3 linked regions of the Homo sapiens genome follow. The protein of the gene in region 1 interacts with the protein of each later gene in a pairwise test. Each region holds a gene or a part of one and is shown on either strand. Other genes may lie near its edges.

Region 1 (7,144 bases):
CTGGCGGATCACATGAGGCCAAAAGTTTGAGACCAGCCTGGCCAACATGGTGAAACCCCGTCTCCACAAAAAATACAAAAATTAGCTGGGCATAGTGGCACACACCTGTAATCCCAGCTGCTCGGGAGGCTGAGGCAGGAGAATCACTTGAACCCGGGAGGTGGAGGTTGCAGTGAGCCAAGATCACACCACTGCACTCCAGCCTTGGTGACAGAGTGAGTGACAGTCCATCTCAGAAAAAAAAAAAAAAGAAGAAGAAGTGATGGGGTCAGGGGTTGGAGGACGTCATGCAGAGTGGTCCATTGATGGGACAGAGCCAGGGCAGCTCCTAGCCCATCTACTTACCACCTCAAGGAAAGATGGTCACCTTTTCCAGAAAGGCTGTTTCCTCACCCCTCAGACAGGCAGGCCTACTGAAACTGGCCAAAGATGGACTTATAAAATATAATTTCTTGGGTGCAGGATGGATGGCTTAGAGGGGAAAAGGCTCCCTGGGCTTGGATGTCCTCCTCTCATGGTGGGAAGGAACATTCCTCTTTCTGCAGGATGGAAAGAGAAGTTTTTCCTCCATCCTCACACACTGGCTTCCGCTGTCCAAAGGAGTGTGACTGCCCCCTCCACCCCTGCCTGGGGTGGGGCTGAGACAGATGCTTTGCCAAGGGTGGCTCGGCTCCTATCCTCCCAGCTGGCTCTATTGCAGCCTGCCAGTCTATCCTTCACTCTCATAAGGATCCCTCTCACCTATGGGGCCCTGGTACTAGTGGTCAGTAGCCCCAGTTACCATGGAGTCTGAATCATCTCTAATCCCTAAGGTTCTCCAGATAGACAGTGGGCTGAGTGGTTTCCTCCCAGGGAGGCTTTCCAGAAAGCTGTGGGTGTGGAAGAACCGTAAAAAAGAATCTCTTAAGGAGAAAGAGAAAACCCATGAACCTATGAGATGAGAGGGATTCAGGAGCTCTGGCTGGGAAAGTAAAATTGAATAATAAGACCTAGCCTGCCACTCAGTGTCTGAATTTTGCCTGTGCAGGCCCCATAACAACAAAGAAAATAGGGCAGCATGCCCACTCTCATCCTCCACCGGCAAATTCCAGCTAGAAGGTATTGGTTAAAGACCCTTCCAGATGCAAGGGTCAAGAAAGGAAGGATAAAGACAGACAGGCAGAGCCCAGGAGCCCTGAAGCAGGCCTGGCAGCTGCTTTACAAACAGAACAGCTTCTCTGCTTTCAAATGCTCTTCTTAAAGTTTGGCCTTCTAGGCTACCCTGGTTGCACTGGGATAGGGGTGGGGGTTGTGAACTCCTTGGTATTTATTTTCTGTTGCCTCGATTATTCTGACATGTACTGAGTGACTGCCCTTCTCTCATACTGAGATCTTTCAGGTGGAGTGCTCAATGACTGGTCTCGCATCACTATGAACCCCAAGGTGTTTAAGCTACATCCCCGCAGCGGGGAGCTGGAGGTACTGGTGGACGGCACCTACTTCATCTATAGTCAGGTAGAAGTGAGTACGGTCTTAGGCCTAACTCTTCTTATATCCAGAATGCAGATCCGGTGCAGGCCACATAGGGGCACTGTGGAGCCAGCCAAGACCATCCAATGGCTAACTTCCTGCTTTGGGTGAGGGGGTGGGGGGACCGCACTGGGAGGGAGTTGAAAGGAGGAAAGAGAGAGGGGGCCAGCTTCTTTTGTTTTGTTTTGTTTTGTTTTTCCTTAGCCAAATATTATTGAAAAACTGTGAAAAAGACCCCTCCCACACCCTGCCATCTGATTCCCTCCTGCAGGGCCTCAGGCCCCTGTTTACCCTCTGAGCTGTTTGGCTGCACTGCCAAACTTGAACTTGGTCTCAGTACATTCTTTGAAAGTCAGTTCCAGGGTTACTGAGAACCCTTTCCCTCAACACTGCTGGCTCGGACGTTGTAATGAATAGTGCTCCTGCAGACTTTCTTTCCACCTCAAAAAGATTTCTGACTGTCTTTCCTTCCTCTTTCTCCCATTTGTTTCCCTATCTTTCTATTCCTCTATTCTTGCCTCCTTCCTGCTGTCATTCTCCCAGCCCTTTCTCCCTCTGCTTTTGTCCTCTTCCTGCCCTGGGCCCGCTCCCCAAGTCCACCAGTGTCCATCTACTTCCGTTCCCCCATTGTTTGCCTCCATGGGAGTGGCTCCTTGGAGATAAAGGAAGATGAGCCATGAGGTTGGGATTTTTGTGGGATGGGCAGCAAGCAGGCAGGTGGACAGAAGGACTATGGAGCCAACAGATGGGTGTCACATGAGAGCGGCCAGAGAAGGTGGGCTAACAAGCATCTGCTAGGCACACTGAGCACCCCGCTGTAGCTTGGGTCCTGACCCGTATATGGCACCCAAATATGCTGTTCCCACCTGAAGAGCTGATAGAGGGAGTGACCTTTCATAAAATGATTTACGGTGATATCTGAGAGTCCCAACACCCATGGGGCACATGGGCATAACCCTGATGTCCTGTGAGCCAAGTTCCACGTGGTGGGGGTGGGCGGCAGATCAAAACTTGGTGTGAGGTATGATGGATAAGGGTAGTGAAGGATGGAAAAATTAATTTTCTGAGCCTAGGAGAGAATTGAGAGTGGCCCATGCAGGCTGGGAAAATCCCCATGACATTAGGCCACTGAGCATAAGTTAGTGCTTCCTTCTGGCCACAAAGTTAGGGGCCTGGGCTTTTCCAAATTCTTTGTCTTGTTTGTGGTAGCTAGCTCTCGATCTCTCTGGACCTGTTTCCTCAATCATCAGATGGGAGGCCCAAGGGGCACTGTGAATCAGTGAGGGGAGTCCAGGCCCAGGGGAGGGGTGGTGCAAGCTGAATAAGCTTCTGTTAAGGAGCTCAAGAAATCACAAGTTGTTACATGCCCTCTCTGGGGAATCAGTGACTTCTAAGTTTCTCCACAAATAGTCCGTGGGGCTCAAGAATGGAAGTCAGTTTGTGTCCACGGCACTGTGTACACACCTGCTACGTGCAGAGCACTCTGCTTCATGTCAGGGCTGGGGCAGGGGTGGGCGGGGGAACAGGGGCACGGTGAAGCTGCAAATAGGGCATGGTTCTTAGCCTTACAGAGTTTGCGACAAGTGTGCTGTTGTAAGAAAAGTTTGCTCAGCCAGCTGAGCCCCATGGACTAGGGGAAGAACAATGCCTGTCACCTGTCCTTTCCTGTTGGCCAGCTAGCACGCCTTCACATGGCACTGCCCCATCCATGGGGTATACTAACAGCTCATCTGAGAAGATTCTGTCAATTCACCACAGGGAGGGCCCCCCACCCTCTCTTTCCTCTCTTCCCCAATCCCTTCTTGTTGCCTCTCACTCAGGTATACTACATCAACTTCACTGACTTTGCCAGCTATGAGGTGGTGGTGGATGAGAAGCCCTTCCTGCAGTGCACACGCAGCATCGAGACGGGCAAGACCAACTACAACACTTGCTATACCGCAGGCGTCTGCCTCCTCAAGGCCCGGCAGAAGATCGCCGTCAAGATGGTGCACGCTGACATCTCCATCAACATGAGCAAGCACACCACGTTCTTTGGGGCCATCAGGCTGGGTGAAGCCCCTGCATCCTAGATTCCCCCCATTTTGCCTCTGTCCGTGCCCCTTCCCTGGGTTTGGGAGCCAGGACTCCCAGAACCTCTAAGTGCTGCTGTGGAGTGAGGTGTATTGGTGTTGCAGCCGCAGAGAAATGCCCCAGTGTTATTTATTCCCCAGTGACTCCAGGGTGACAAGGCCTGCTTGACTTTCCAGAATGACCTTGAGTTAACAGGACAGTTGATGGAGCCCCAGGGTTTACATGAAGCAGAACCTTCTTTGGTTCCATGTTGACTGACTTATGGCATGACTCTTCAACCCCGAGGTCCCTGTTGTCAGATCTATTGTTTGTTGCACTAAAATGAGGATCCAGGGCAGCAGGCCAGAGAAAGCAAAGGTGCACTCCAGACTCTGGGGGTGGACATCTGACCCCAAGGGGGCTGCTGCTCCTCTCTTGGGTAGGGTAGTGGCTGGGGTGGAGTGGGAAGGGAGCATTGCAGCCTAAGAAGAAGGCCAGAGAGGGAAAAGGCAGGTGCTTTTGGCAGAGACCATAAGAGAAACCTGCCAAGGAGCATCCTTGGCAGTGGGAATGTTCTTTCTGCTCTATACTGTGGCCTGCAGGAGGGTTGGAGTGCTCTTCCCACTCCAGCTGACAGCCACACCGTGGCAGCTTGCTGGGCTTTGGGAAGTTTGCTGTGCTTTGGAACAATCACAGGGAATGGCCACAAACCTGCCCGCCTAAGACCCTGAATCCGTACTTGGGTCACATGACTCTCATTTTATTTACAGCTGTGCTCCACACTCAGAAAATTCCCTGGGGTCACCTTCTAGTTGCCCCCATTCCCAGCCTGACTAGAACTCCTGTCTTCTTTCTCCATGGAGCCTACCTCTGTCTGAGACAGGTGCCTAACCTGGGACCTGTGGTCATGTGAGTCTGGGATATTCTTTAGCTTACCTGGGCACAAACAGAATTTTCCATTTATTAAGCAGTACAAATGTTTTTCATCCATTCCTAATCAAATTCTGTCTGGGGACGAAGGGTTGGACGGGATGACCTCCAGAAGTCCCTTCAATTTCTAGTACCTGTGACTCTTAGCCCTCACCACAGCCTTCTAAATTCCCAAATCCTAGACTGCTCCTGGGCATTAGCAAGGCAGAGCCTTTTTACCTGGCCTAGAAAGGGCAAGGGGTGAGGATAGGACAGAGGGATTTTGTTCAAGTTTGCTGCAACCCAAGTGGACGTTAGGCCAGGCCTTATCTGAAAGGCCAGCAGCTGATGCTGTACTAACCCAGTCTTTCTTCACTCTGGCTTCAAAAAGCCACAGCAGAGCATTGTCACCGCAGGTGCTCATGCTGCTCCCCTAAAGCCAGGCTCAGGAGAAGCCAGTGTCTAGGCACTGAGCAGGGATCTGCCCCCTAGTTCAGGTCCAAATTCACCTTCCCCTAAACCCCAAGCTTCCCAACAGATCATATGGTAGGACCCTCGAGAGCCTTACTTCAAAGTGCCTGGGCTCAGCCTGGTTTCTGGGTGCTAGATCCAGCCCAAACCTGGGAAGGCCAGCCTTGTACAGTCTGCTCCTCTTGTTCCTGAAATGTGTTTCCTTTTCAGGAGATGGGGAATAATTTCCTTCAGGCAGCTGAAATTCACCAAGAACAGCGGGTACTTATTTCTCAGCTGTGCCTTCCCTTTCTAAGCAACCACACTGCTTGGCCCTTCAAGGGTCAGGGTGAGACGTGATGGGCTAGGCCTCCGTTGTCTGGTTGCTAATGACAGCCTTGCAACCCAAGGTGAGGTGAACTCCAGGCATGTGTCTGGCCCTAACTCCTATAAAGTGCCTCGGACAGTCCGCAGTTGTAGCAGAAACCAACAAGAACCACTCCTTCATGTTTGGAAAATAATTTCTCTTGTATTATCTCCTTTGAAGAAGGCAAGGCTGATAATATGACAAACATCATTGTTTAGATGAGGCTCAGAGAGGTAGCACTCTCAGAGTGTTTTGACCAGTTTAAGCCGCAGACCTGGAGCTTCAGCCAGGTCTGACTCCAAAGCTGTTCCATTACACCACAGCATTGTGTGGAATTTGAGGTCTAGAGAGAACCAATAAAAGTGGTAATTGGGAACTGAAATCCTTGAGAGTTCCGGGGAGAAACCCAGAGATGCCTGATTTCATTCCTCGATGGTAATACCCGTCCTCTCGGCTGCCAGGGGCTCTGTGGCAAAAAGAGTCAGACATTTCTTTGGAAAACAGCGAACAGCCTTAGAGCTCTTGTGTTCAGAAGAATCTTCCTGGCACAATGTTGGAGCAGCAGGCCTCTGGGACCCACAGAACTTGTGGCCTTTATGTTCTTTCACCCATCCTAGGAACCAGCCAACCATCATGTGTAGAGCCCCTACTGTGGGCAAAGTCCTCCTTTCATTACCCTACAGACAGCTTACAGGAGCCAGCCTGCTTCCCACAACTACTAGTGTGACTCCTTATCTCTTTCCACCATACCTTAGAGACTTTGATACTACCAGGGTCTCTCAGGGATGGAGGGAAGACCTGAAAGAGAGGACTGGTTCTGAGGCCAGAAAGGTGTGAGGAGAGAGGAGGAAAAGTCTTCCTAATTGTGCCCCTAAAGAGCATCCTGATACCATTCTATTCTCCAGACATGGAGGGGATGATAAAGGAAATAGGATCTCCACTGGACCCTTGATTCATTCTGAACCCTCCAAAGGAACTCTAGAGGGCGAGGGATGATGAGGGAAGCAATAGGTAGCTGGGGAGCCCTATTGCTGCTAAGTCATTGGCAAAGTGACAAAGCAATTTACTGATGAGAGAATGTGGAAATAGATGTGCAGTTTGGAATTATGTTGGTGTGAATTTGCCAGAGGACCAATGCTTGCATGGAGAATGGGACGAGGACATTTGTGGGCAAGCAGATGACAGAGGTTTGAAGGAGAATGGCATGGCAGGAGTCTCTGCCAGTTACTTGGGCTTCAACAGCCAAGCTGGCACAAAAGACAGCTGGCGGAGGCTGCTCGGCTACTGGTTACCTGGAGAAGTAGTATTTGCCTATTTCCCCCTTCATCCATCCTGAGCCAAATTTCTTTTGCTGAACAGGAAAGAGCTAGGAACCCTGGAGGTAAACAAAGACTTTGATCCATGTATGAGTGTATGTGTTTATGTAACTTCCTGTGGATGCAAATAGATTCAGAGAAATTTAGAGCTAAAAAGGCCCTTAGAGGGAATCTAGCCCAACCTACATTCCACCCTGTTACTTATGTAGAAACTGAGGCCCAGAGAGGGAAGATGACCTGCCCCAAGTGGTGAGCAAGCACCAACCTCCAGACTCAGCAGAGTGAGGGGGTAAAGCAGTTCCTGTCCCACATGGCCATCTTCTTTCTTCCACCCACAAACTCCAGGCTGGAAGTACTTGGCCCCCTTCAGGAGCCTGGCCAGGCAGGGAGAGAGTAGCTGCAGCCTTCATCAGAACTCTTCCTCCTCCCAAGGCATTCTCCCAGCTCTAGCCTCTGGACTGGAAAGCACAAGACTGGCCCAGTGCCAGCAAGTCCTTAGGCTACTGTAATGCTGCCTCAGGACCCATCCCTGCCTGGAGGC
Region 2 (7,000 bases), on another chromosome or scaffold:
TATGAACTATGTATACATTTAAGAAAGATTAATAAAAACCAGATAGGCCAGGTGCAGTGGCTCATGCCTGTAATCCCAGCACTTTGGGAGGCCAAGGCGGGCAGTTCCCCTGAGGTCAGGAGTTTGAGACCAGCCTGGCCAACATGGTGAAACCCTGTCTCTACTAAAAATATAAAAATTAGCTAGGCTGGTGGCATGTGCCTGTAATCCTAGCTACTTGGGAGGATCGCTGGAGCCCAGGAGGCAGGGGTTGCATTGAGCCCAGATCATGCCACTGTACTCCAGCCTGGGTGACAGAGCAAAACTCTGTCCCAGGAAAAAAAAAAAAAAGCCAACAAAGATAATTACCCAGTATTTGGTGAATCAGTGAGTAACAGTGGTTGTGGTGGTCTATTAAAAACATGGAATCATGTTTGAGAAATGAAAATTGTCAGGAGCACATCCAGCTCCATGCAGATCAAAAACAATTCAAATACGGTGGGATCTCTGAGTGCTTTTGTGCCATAGCGTTTATTGTCATGCATTTGTATGATCACCGTAGACTTTACCAATTTTTATTCGATAATAATTTGTATTCATCCATTCATTCATTTTTCAACCCTCTTATTCTGGTTTGGGGTGCTGGTGGCTGGAGCCAATCCCAGCAGCTCAAGGAGGGAGGAACCCACCTTGGATAGGAGGCCACTCCATCACAGGATACACTCATGTACACACTCACACTCAACCCAGGACAACTTAAACATGCCAGTGAACCTAATGTGCACTGTTTTGGGATATGGGAGGAAACCAGAGTCCCACAGATGTGGGGAGAATATGCAAGCCCCACACATACTTAAATGTTATAACAAAATGACATAGAAATGATGTTATTTGAGGACCTGCTGTATTTGGTTTAAGGTACAGCTTGTTTTGGGTTATTCTTTTGGGTAAAAGTTCTAACATATAGTTTCTTTAAATCTGTTACTCTGTAGATGTAATTGGTTTGATCAGTCACTGTATTAATAGCTCCAGAGCCAATCTCATAAAAAGGAAATGCATACAACAAATTGTTCCCTGGATCTTAATTTTAATCTAAAATAAAATAGTGTTAAATGGGAAGTGTTTTACCAAAAATATAGATTCAAATTGTTATTCCTTTTTATGATTTTATAGTTTTATAGAATGTTATCTTAAGTAACATTTTAATAAGATTTGATGTTAAGTACTGAAGACTGTCAAGCTTGGAACACATAGTAATTATTATTATCTCACTACCACAGACATATCCTATTTACAGACTTCTACTTAATAGTAGTAGTTTCCATCATGCCTTCTTTCAGAGATCCCACAAGCTATTGCTGCCTGTGGGGCCTATACTTTGATGATTAATAAAATAAGAATTTACATGTCATTACAGAAAAATTATATATAGACTGAAAATTAACTGTATTAACTGTCCAGAGATAATCGTTATTAACACTTGGGGACATTTTGTTTTCAATCAGTATACTTATGTGTCAATTTTGAAATAAGAAAAATGAAAAACGGAGAAAAAAAGTCAGTAATTAACTGCCAGACATAGTGACTGTTAACATTTGTTGATATATTATTGTTAATCAACATATTACTACCTTACCCCAGGTGTCAGATTTTATTTTCTCCTAAGTCCTTTTATACATCCCATAAAAGCCCATCTCAACCTGTTAGCCCATTCCTGAGAGAGGAAAGTGCTGAAGGGAGCAGAAGGAAGTGCTGAAAGAATGGCAAAGGGGAAGGTAAGTATCAGGCATGACTAGTTAGAACCCGGCATTTACTTTGGCAAAGAAACCATATGGTTTATGGTGTTTAGATTCTGTAGTGTTCAACTTGGGTCTATTATATTCTGAATTATATAGTAGACTGGGCATTTTTGGCTTGAGACTCTGTCCCCCTTCATAATATTGGTCTGTAGCAAGGAGTTCCAAACACTCAACTTCTATCAAATTTTCTTTCCTTAAAGAGTTATTAACTACCTGTATTTTTCTAGCATATATTCTTCATTGTCTAAACAGGTGGCTAAAGGCTGTTATTTAGGTTGTCTATAACACTTCTACTTAGAAAATAGCAGCTTATAAAAGCAGAACTACCATTCGACCCAACAATCCCATTACTGGGTATATATCCAGAGGAGTGTAAATCTTTCTGCCGTAAAGACATACACCCATGAATATTCATTGCAGCACTATTCACAATAGCAAAGACATGAACCGGCCTAAGTGCTCATCAGTGACAGACTGGATAAAGAAAATGTGGTACATATACACCATGCAATACTATGCAGCCATAAAAAAGAATGATATCATGTCTTTTGCGGGAACATGGATGGAGCTGGAGGTCATTATCCCTAGCAAACTAACATAGGAAAAGAAAACCAAATACCACAGGTTCTCACTTACAGGTGGGAGCAAGATGATAAGAACTTATGAACACAAAGAAGGAAACAACAGACGCTGGGGTCTACTTGAGCGGGGAGGATGGGAGGAGGCAGAGGAGCAGAAAACTGTTGGGTACTGGGCTTAATAACGGGATGATGAAGTAATACATACAACAAGCTCCCCATGACATGTGTTTACCTGTGTAACAAACCTTCACACATACCCCCAAACTTAAAACAAAAGTTAAAAATAAGGGACATAGCAGCTTAAACTTGACATATATTTAATGACTTTTGTTTGAATTCTTCAGGTAAAATATAAATAGATTTTCTTTTGTTCTTTATTGAGATTCATCCTTTAAGTTGCTTATGTTGATATTTGCTTATGTTGATATTTGCTTATTGTAGATCTAGTGGATTGGAAAATTATGGGAAGATTTTATTTATATTTGAGTAGTCACTTTTTTTTTTTTTTTTTGAGACAGTCTTGCTGTGTTGCCCAGGCTGGAGTGCAGTGGCACGATCTCGGCTCACTGCAAGCTCCACCTCCCGGGTTCACGCCATTCTCCTGCCTTAGCCTCCCGAGTAGCTGGGACTACAGGTGCCCGCCACCATGCCTAATTTTTTTGTGTTTTTAGTAGAGACGGGGTTTCACCATGTTAGCCAGGATGGTCTCGATCTCCCGACCTCGTGATCCACCCGCCTCGGCCTCCCAAAGTGCTGGGATTGCAGGCGTGAGCCACTGCACCTGGCCGAGTAGTCACCTTTTATGAAGATGTGTAGCAGAATACAGTTAAGAAAGGAATAATAATTAGACTTGGTAATTCCTATTTGAACATATGGTTTTGTGAGGTTTTTGGGCTTAAGTGGTCTTAAAAGGTCAGAAATTTTAAAAATTATTTTGAGACAAAACATGGGAAAGGAGGGAGTTGGCCAGGAGTTTATCATGAAGCATATACAGGAGTCATCCCCTACGTTGACACTGGTAAGTTGTACTTCAGTCACATGAAACATGTCACCTTTCCATAAATACTCCATTCCCTTTTGTGATTTTGTTCTTTGCACATGTTGTTCTATCTCTGCCTGGAATGTGTTCTCCACCTTTTGATTGTCTGCCATGCAAGCTTCAGTTGATTCTTAAGGTTCAGTTTAAATATCACTTCCTAGTGAAACCTTTCATTAGTTATTAAGGTGGAATTGGTTGTCACCTCTACTGGTTTTTAATAGGGCTTTAGTGTTATCTATATGAGGATATCTGTCAGATTATAGCACAATTTCAATTTACATGTTTGTATCCCCAGCTAGACTGATAGTTTCTGAAGTAAAGAAACTGTGTGTTTATTTAGTATCCTAGTACTTAGTGCATAATTGGTATGCTTCAATAAATCACTAAAGTTAAATAAGGGATTTTTATGACTAAAACTATTAGAAAATTGTTAATTAAAAATAATGCTGTGGGCAGGGCATGGTGGCTCACATCTATAATTCCAACACTTTGGAAGGCCTAGGCGGGACGAATGTTTGAGCCCAGGAGTTCGAGACCAGCTTGGGCAACATAATGAGACCCCATCTCATTTTTAATTAATTAATTGTTTTTATGAATGGATGAATGAATGACTGACAGGGTCTTGCTCTGTCACCCAGGCTGGAGTGCAGTTGTGCAATCGTGGCTCACTGCACCTCAACTTCCCAGGCTCTAGCGATCTCCCTGCCTCAGCCTCCTGAGTAGCTGAGACCACAGGTGTGCGCCACCATGCCTGGCTAATTTTTGTATTTTTGGTAGGGACAGGGTTTCACTGTGCTGCACAGGCTGGTCTCAAACTCCTGAGCTCAGGTAATTCCTGGGATTACAAGTGTGAATGACCATGCCTGGCCCTCATTTTTAATAATAAGTTAAACAATTTTAAAAATAATGCTGTGATTGACAGATTAACTAGTTCTAATAACAATTTGTTAGTTGGACATGTAAGCTCTAATATTTTCCTCAAGTCTCTTTCTATCACAGGTGAGAAAAATGAGGCTTAGAGGATTCACCTAAATTAATGGTTACCTGATTAACACAGTATTAACCTGAACTAGGCTTTGTATAAATGGGTTTTTAGTATTTGTGAAATACAGAGATATGCCCTAAAGAGATGAGCTCTTTACTGTTTAAAGCATAGTTAACATACTTTAAAGATGATCTTATAATCCTACAACAGCTAACTGTTATTGAAAAAGAAGAGTTTGTTTCTGGAAACAAATTGGGTGTAAAGGAGATGACCAAAAATAGTATCCTGTTTCTTGTCAGATTTAGAAATATGCCATAATCCTAAAGTTATTTGTAACTACTTTATGATTTTATGCCTAAACTTAAATCTGCTTTACACGCTAAAATGTTAATGATATACATTTAATTTATTGGGCTCAATTTTTTACAGTTATCATCTGAAATGTGTGGAATCCTAGTTCTACTGAATACCAACATTTGTATGATGATAATTAGGCCAGATTTTATCCATAGAAGATGGGGCTTCCTGTCATACATTGAGAATTGAAAACCTTTGTTGTGGGAACAGCAGAATCCTATTTTTGGAGTTGTCTGTGACCTTTACTACATTATAATTTATGGCATGGTTGTCAGATGTTTATCATTCTCTTCTCTGCACTGACAACCACTGTATGAGTTTCCTTTTTTTTTTTTTTTTTAATTTCTTAACAGCTAAGCTGTTTAATAGAGTACTTTTTCGATGGAAAGCATACAAAAATAGTTTAGTTTTATTTTCATGTTATCTGATCTTTTTAGAGCATTCTGTTAGTCTAATCATAAATAGTTTTGGGATTTTCTGAACTTGTATATGGCCTAAACAACCATGGAAACTGAAGCTGCTCTCCACCCTTTTATTAAAAGAATGACAATATATATAAATTGGTTGTTTTGACACAAGAGTGGTATTCATTTATAGATGAATTTTAAAATCAAATTGTCTTCTAGGCCCTAGAATCAAGAGTATTGAAAACATGAAAGGTGCTTGTTAGGAGTTTGGGTGTAGAAATGCCAGACTCCTGTCTCTTGAGTTACATGTCAGAGGCAGGAAAGTATCCACAGAGTATCTTATGTCTGTGGATCCATGATTACTCTACTTTTTAGGGGAATGAGAAGAATAAAAATAAAGAATTCTTTACTATTCTTTGTGGGATTTATAAATCCTTTGGTTGTCGTCCTTTCCTCAAGAAAAGTAACGCTGGAAATTAAAAAAAAAATCAAGTTCAAGATGGTATTCTGGTTTTTTTTTTGAGGTGGAAGAAGGAAATAGAAAAGCCATTAGGCAACTCTAATCTTTTGACTAATGTCATATACCATGTTAGGCAACATGTTTGGTGGAAGCTACTATATATCAACTCCTTCAGGAGTCCTTACTTTGTCTGCAGTGAGTCCTGTTTTAGCAATGTAATATCAGATGCATTCTTGTGCGGAAGGAACCTCAATAGTCTTCTGAAAACTTTTGGTGGCCTGCTTTATGACTTGCTAGACAATTGATACTTTAATGATGTTGTATATGCTGAGCATTAATCTCCATCTATACTTTAAGTATGTTCACTTCTTGCAGAACTTCTCAAACTTCAGTATTTTTGGTGGTATTCCTTTTGCTGAAATAATAAATTCCTGGGATTCTTTATGTTTGTAGAATTTAGAATTTTGCTTTTCTCCTTTTAATTTTGTTTATTCTTTTAGTAAACATGGGAGTACTGAAGAAATACTTTATTAAATTGAATTCAAGTAATATCTAAGGCTACAGTCTGATATACTCTAGGATGTTTTTTCCATCTAATTGGTTTAGAAGATTAGAATTTTCTATAGATTGAATAAACAGGACTTGTCTATATTTGGATTGTTTGGAATTTTATTTTTCTACTACTTTCTGACATTTCCACTGATAAGCCATAAGTGAATGTGCATATACCCTTTTTTGGACTTGTGGTAATAAATTAGGACAGTTCATCATTAGATTTACGATGAATCTGTTGGCTTACAAAAGTTCACTCCAGTGGAGTCATTTTCCTTTTGAGATTGCCTAATACTAAACTTGGACATTCTATTTGAAGTTACTTTGTGGTAGCAACATTCCAGAGCTTTGTTGGTCCAGACTGGCTGTTTGAAAGAATCTTCAAGCTGCTTCTGTCTGGTTATGAAAATAATTGTATATGCATAAAAATCAATATATTCTCATTCCTAAATTGACCCATAATGAAGTGCTTCTCATGTTAAAGCTCTGTCTTGAGGAGAATTCATTAAACAACAGCACAGAGATATTTTTCTCTCTAAAACTGACAATTTAGCTTATTGCTGTTGCTATATTGTCTGTAGGTTTGCCTTCATTATTGTTTTTTAAATATTGAAACAATGCTTTACAAGTGTATTTACAAGTAAAATATTCTTCTTAACCCTGTAGGAGTTGGAAATTCAGAATCTTTTCTGGGGGAAGAGAATATGGGGAGGTAGTATTGAGAAAGTCTTAAGGATTTAAAATGAATGCCACTTAATAAATATACCCCCTATTAATGTGAGTGAGTTAGTCAACCTTTTTTTTTGTGCGGGGGTTGGGGGTTGAAAACTAAAGATGGAGT
Region 3 (3,729 bases), on another chromosome or scaffold:
CAGGATTGCCTGGTACCCAGTCAACAACCTGTCCCCCACCCCCACCCTGTGGACATTGACTTCCAAAGAAATAGAGCTGGAGAGTTGATCCAAGGACATTTTACAGTGGAGAAGGAGAAAGAGTTTGCTTAACCTTTCTCATGTGTGAACATTTGCCAAAGTGATTCCTTGCAGAGCATTGAAATGTGAGCTGTGTTTCTTTTGGGCCCCTGGCCAAACTGAGAAGAAAGCACAGAGAAAGCCCTGCGTACAGGGCACCCCATTTCCTTGACCCTCTCCCACTCCCATTCGTCAATGCAATCCATCCATCTGAAAGTGTTTTGCTTTACTCAGAGTTCAGGGAATGTCCACTATGTGGCAGGCACTTCAGTAGGAGCAGGAGGTTCTTCCTAATTTTAGGAACAAGAAAAGCCAACCCTGTTCCTTTATTCTAGATGCCACTTGCTCAAAGGAAGCATGTGGACTGGGAAGTTCCAACAGATTTAAAGGATAAAAAGGAATGTGGAGAAATTTTTATTACTTTGAATGTTTTAGAATGCAGGTAGAAGAGACCCGGAGCTCAAATAGCTTAAATAAGTAGGAAATCTATTGGCTAATACAACTGGAAATGCGGAGATAGGGCAGGCTGCAGGGCTGGTGGCTCAGGGCTCAGGGGGCCCCAACTCTCTGTGCTGCTCTGAGGCACTGCCTTCAATCTCAGGTTGGCAGCACAAAGCTGCTGAGAGTCCCAGTGTCACGCCCAGACCCCACAATGCCAGGGAGGAAGACAGGTTCTATCTAAGGAGAGATCTTCCATCCCCACCTCTGCGGACTTTTACTCACTTCTCAGGGACCTGCATGGGATCTCAGGCCCATTCCTGAAGCAGTTGTTGGCAGACAGAGTGGAATAGTGTTTACAGCAGGCAGGCAGCCTTGGAGTGGAGGCACACAGCTCCAAGTCTATCAGGAAGAAGGGGAAATGGGAGCTGCACAGACAGCAAGCAGCATGCTCCATAGACCACGAGGATCTGAGTCTGAATTGGTGATTATTAGAACAATGACTCCATGGGGTGATACATTAGAAGTGCTCCAGGGTCCAGAGATTTAAATGTAATGAAAGATGAACAGAAAAATAATGAAAAAAAGTATGCTGCACAACAATAGAAAAACAAAAATCTCATAATGCAAAAGCATCAAGTGTTTGACTCTGAGGAGCGCCTTGTATGCCCAGTTACTCTCGTTCTCCCTCAGCTCTTGCTTGTGCTTCTCCACCTGCCATTCCACTTTGGCCTGGTACTGCCTGTAGTCTTCCTGGCAGGCCCCAGCTCCAGTTCTTTGGAGCAGCTGGGCATCCAAGAAGAGGTCATTGCTGTGGAAGGAGCCCTCTCGCTCCCTCCCCAGCCTCTCAATCACAGCCAGGAGCTCTGCCTGCTGCTGCCTCTGCTCCTCCACAGAGCCCCAGTTGTTGAAGGCACAGTACCTTCTCTCACACTCCCGCACCAGGTCTTTCAGGCTGCAGTTGTCCGTGTTTGCTACATAGTCATCCAGGGCCTGGCCCCCTAAGTCCTCTTTGTGGGTGAAGAGGATGACCACATGTCTCATGGCCCCTGTCCCAAAGACCTCTTTCACCTTCCTGATGGCCACTGTGTCCTGAGCAGTGAAACGCCCCAGCTGGATCACCAGAAGCAGGACGTGGGGCCCCGGGGCAGAGAGCAGGTAGCAGTCCCCGATGTTCTTGTACAGCTCTTGGGTATCGGCCTGTGACTCAAAGATGGAGGGCGTGTCAACCACCAGGACTTTCCTCCCGTTCCATGTTCCTGTTTTCACCTGGCACGTCCTGGTCACTGACTGGGCCCTCAGCTTGGACTCAAACACGGGCTGGCCAAGGATGCTGTTCCCTGTGGCACTTTTCCCGCAGCCTGTTTTGCCCACTAGGATAATCCTCAATGCCGGTGGTGTTGCAGACAAGTTATCTTCTGATCTACCTGTAGAAAACGAAGTTTTGTATCTTACTAAGTTAATGATTCTTAAGACTGTTAGGTCATTGTTCATGGTTATCTCATGAAAGCTATGAACGTCCTCCCCAGAATGACAGACATATTTATGTGTACATAAAAGTGTGCATACAACTATAGGTGAATCTTGCATGTAGAAAGCCCCATTGGAAGCCCATGCTTGGATCCACAGCCAGGAATTAGAACTGTTGCATTAAGGGGATGCTTTAAGCACTTCATCTGGATTGTGGCAAATAGAGCTTTCCTGAAAGAAAATGGTCCTTGTGTTTTCCCCTGCGTGGTGTTTAGGCCAGCTCCATGGAGAATTATTAGAAAGAGGCAGGGGATTAGTAGTTACAAGTGAGAAAATCCAATTACTTCTCTTTCACCCACACATTTCCAGGCACACTTGTATAGACACACTCCACACATTCATCCAAGTCTTGAGGGTCAAGGAGGTCTCCACTGGCAAATCTATAGTGACCCACTGCCGGGGGTCAGCTGCCTGTCCCTGGGTCTGTGCCCTCTGGATAGGGAGTGAAATGTTTGAAATTGAGATGACATAGGTTGTAGTTAATGTTAGGGCAGCGTCTGGGAGATGACCCTAGGGTGGATGGCTCAAAAAGGTGGAAGATAAGCTCAATAGAAGCATGTGTGTTGAAAAGCTCATCTATGTGGCTGATTGAAGCACACAAAATTATAGCAGAAGTGGTGTTGGAGAGGGTGACACTGTGGCAGGAGCGAAAATCTTCAGGCACGAAGAGGGGAGAACCTGTGGATTTCTAGAGCCCAAATGAATTCGAAGTGCATTTTAGGCTCTTAAAAATCTATTATTTTATTTCTCCCACTCTGGGTTGGTTCTTCGTTTTCTTAAGTTATTCTGTGGTGTTTTGTAGCAAGCACAATGACTAAATCCCTATGGGGACCTTTTCTTTTTGAGCTGTCAGCAGACAAAGAAAGAGAAAACATATTCACCATTTGCTTCCAGACCCTTCAACCTATGACTTGGTTTCCTTTCCACATTTCCCACATACCTGATGCAGGGAGAGCATCACACTATGGTGTGTGTGTGTGTCTGTGTGTGTGTGTGATGGTTTGATAACACACACGTGATGATAGTTGCCTTTATCTTCTTCATTTAAAATGAATGGGTTTCTGCCACTGTGTTTTAGATGGGGGTAGATGGGGAGAGAATTGTGATTCTCCCAAGTGTCTGGGGCTCTTGAGAACTTCAAGACTTTCTTACCTTCAGCCATAGTTCCATATTTGCCCCTCTGGAATCCTCCCATTCTCTCCTGGAATAAAAACAGGAAAAGGATAAAAAGCAGATGTACGTTTGGGAGCTGGTAGAGCCTGAGGGCACCTCAATTCAGACATCTAAGAATAATCATTCTCAAATGAGCCATTTCCATCCCTAATTTTCTAACTCATACTTTACTTTGAAACATCTGTAAATAACTTTAAACAAAGCAGGTGATGTTAGATGTTAGGTTATGCTAAAATAGTGCACGATTACTTCCCTCCCCTCAACTTACAGAAAATCAGGAAATATTTTGAAGCAAATCAGTTGATTATCTCCCCCAACCAGAAAGGCATGAAATGGAGAAAGCATTCTTCTATGGAACAAAGAGTAGGCATTAAAAAAATTGAAATTAAAGTAACAAACTTACCAGAATAGAGAAAAAAAAATTGCCTTGCTGTAAATAAGATTGGTTTATTTGAAGTAGTGGAAACTTCCAGTCCCAGAAAGTCTTTG

The links. The genes of interacting proteins can lie anywhere in the genome.
Region 2: the proteins of EDA (region 1) and PLN interact in binary tests that used the Homo sapiens proteins (3 or more experiments, as listed by UniProt).
Region 3: the proteins of EDA (region 1) and GIMAP5 interact in binary tests that used the Homo sapiens proteins (3 or more experiments, as listed by UniProt).

The regions. Positions count from the first base shown.
Region 1 is NC_000023.11:70,032,029-70,039,172, forward strand, and holds part of EDA (ectodysplasin-A), read left to right. Parts: intron 1-1,369; coding exon 1,370-1,500; intron 1,501-2,052; coding exon of another isoform or gene 2,053-2,172; exon of another isoform or gene 2,173-3,018; intron 3,019-3,329; coding exon 3,330-3,581; 3' UTR 3,582-7,144. UniProt on the Homo sapiens protein: Cytokine which is involved in epithelial-mesenchymal signaling during morphogenesis of ectodermal organs. Functions as a ligand activating the DEATH-domain containing receptors EDAR and EDA2R. May also play a role in cell adhesion.
Region 2 is NC_000006.12:118,551,296-118,558,295, reverse strand, and holds part of PLN (phospholamban), read right to left. Parts: intron 1-7,000. UniProt on the Homo sapiens protein: Reversibly inhibits the activity of ATP2A2/SERCA2 in cardiac sarcoplasmic reticulum by decreasing the apparent affinity of the ATPase for Ca(2+).
Region 3 is NC_000007.14:150,740,418-150,744,146, reverse strand, and holds the end of GIMAP5 (GTPase IMAP family member 5), read right to left. Parts: intron 3,269-3,729; coding exon of another isoform or gene 3,263-3,268; coding exon 3,220-3,262; intron 1,965-3,219; coding exon 1,084-1,964; 3' UTR 501-1,083; downstream 1-500. Other genes in the region: GIMAP1-GIMAP5 protein, read right to left, coding at 1,084-1,964, 3,220-3,268. UniProt on the Homo sapiens protein: Plays a role in T lymphocyte development and the optimal generation of CD4/CD8 double-positive thymocytes. Inhibitor of GSK3A, possibly by sequestering GSK3A in cytoplasmic vesicles and impairing its translocation to the nucleus.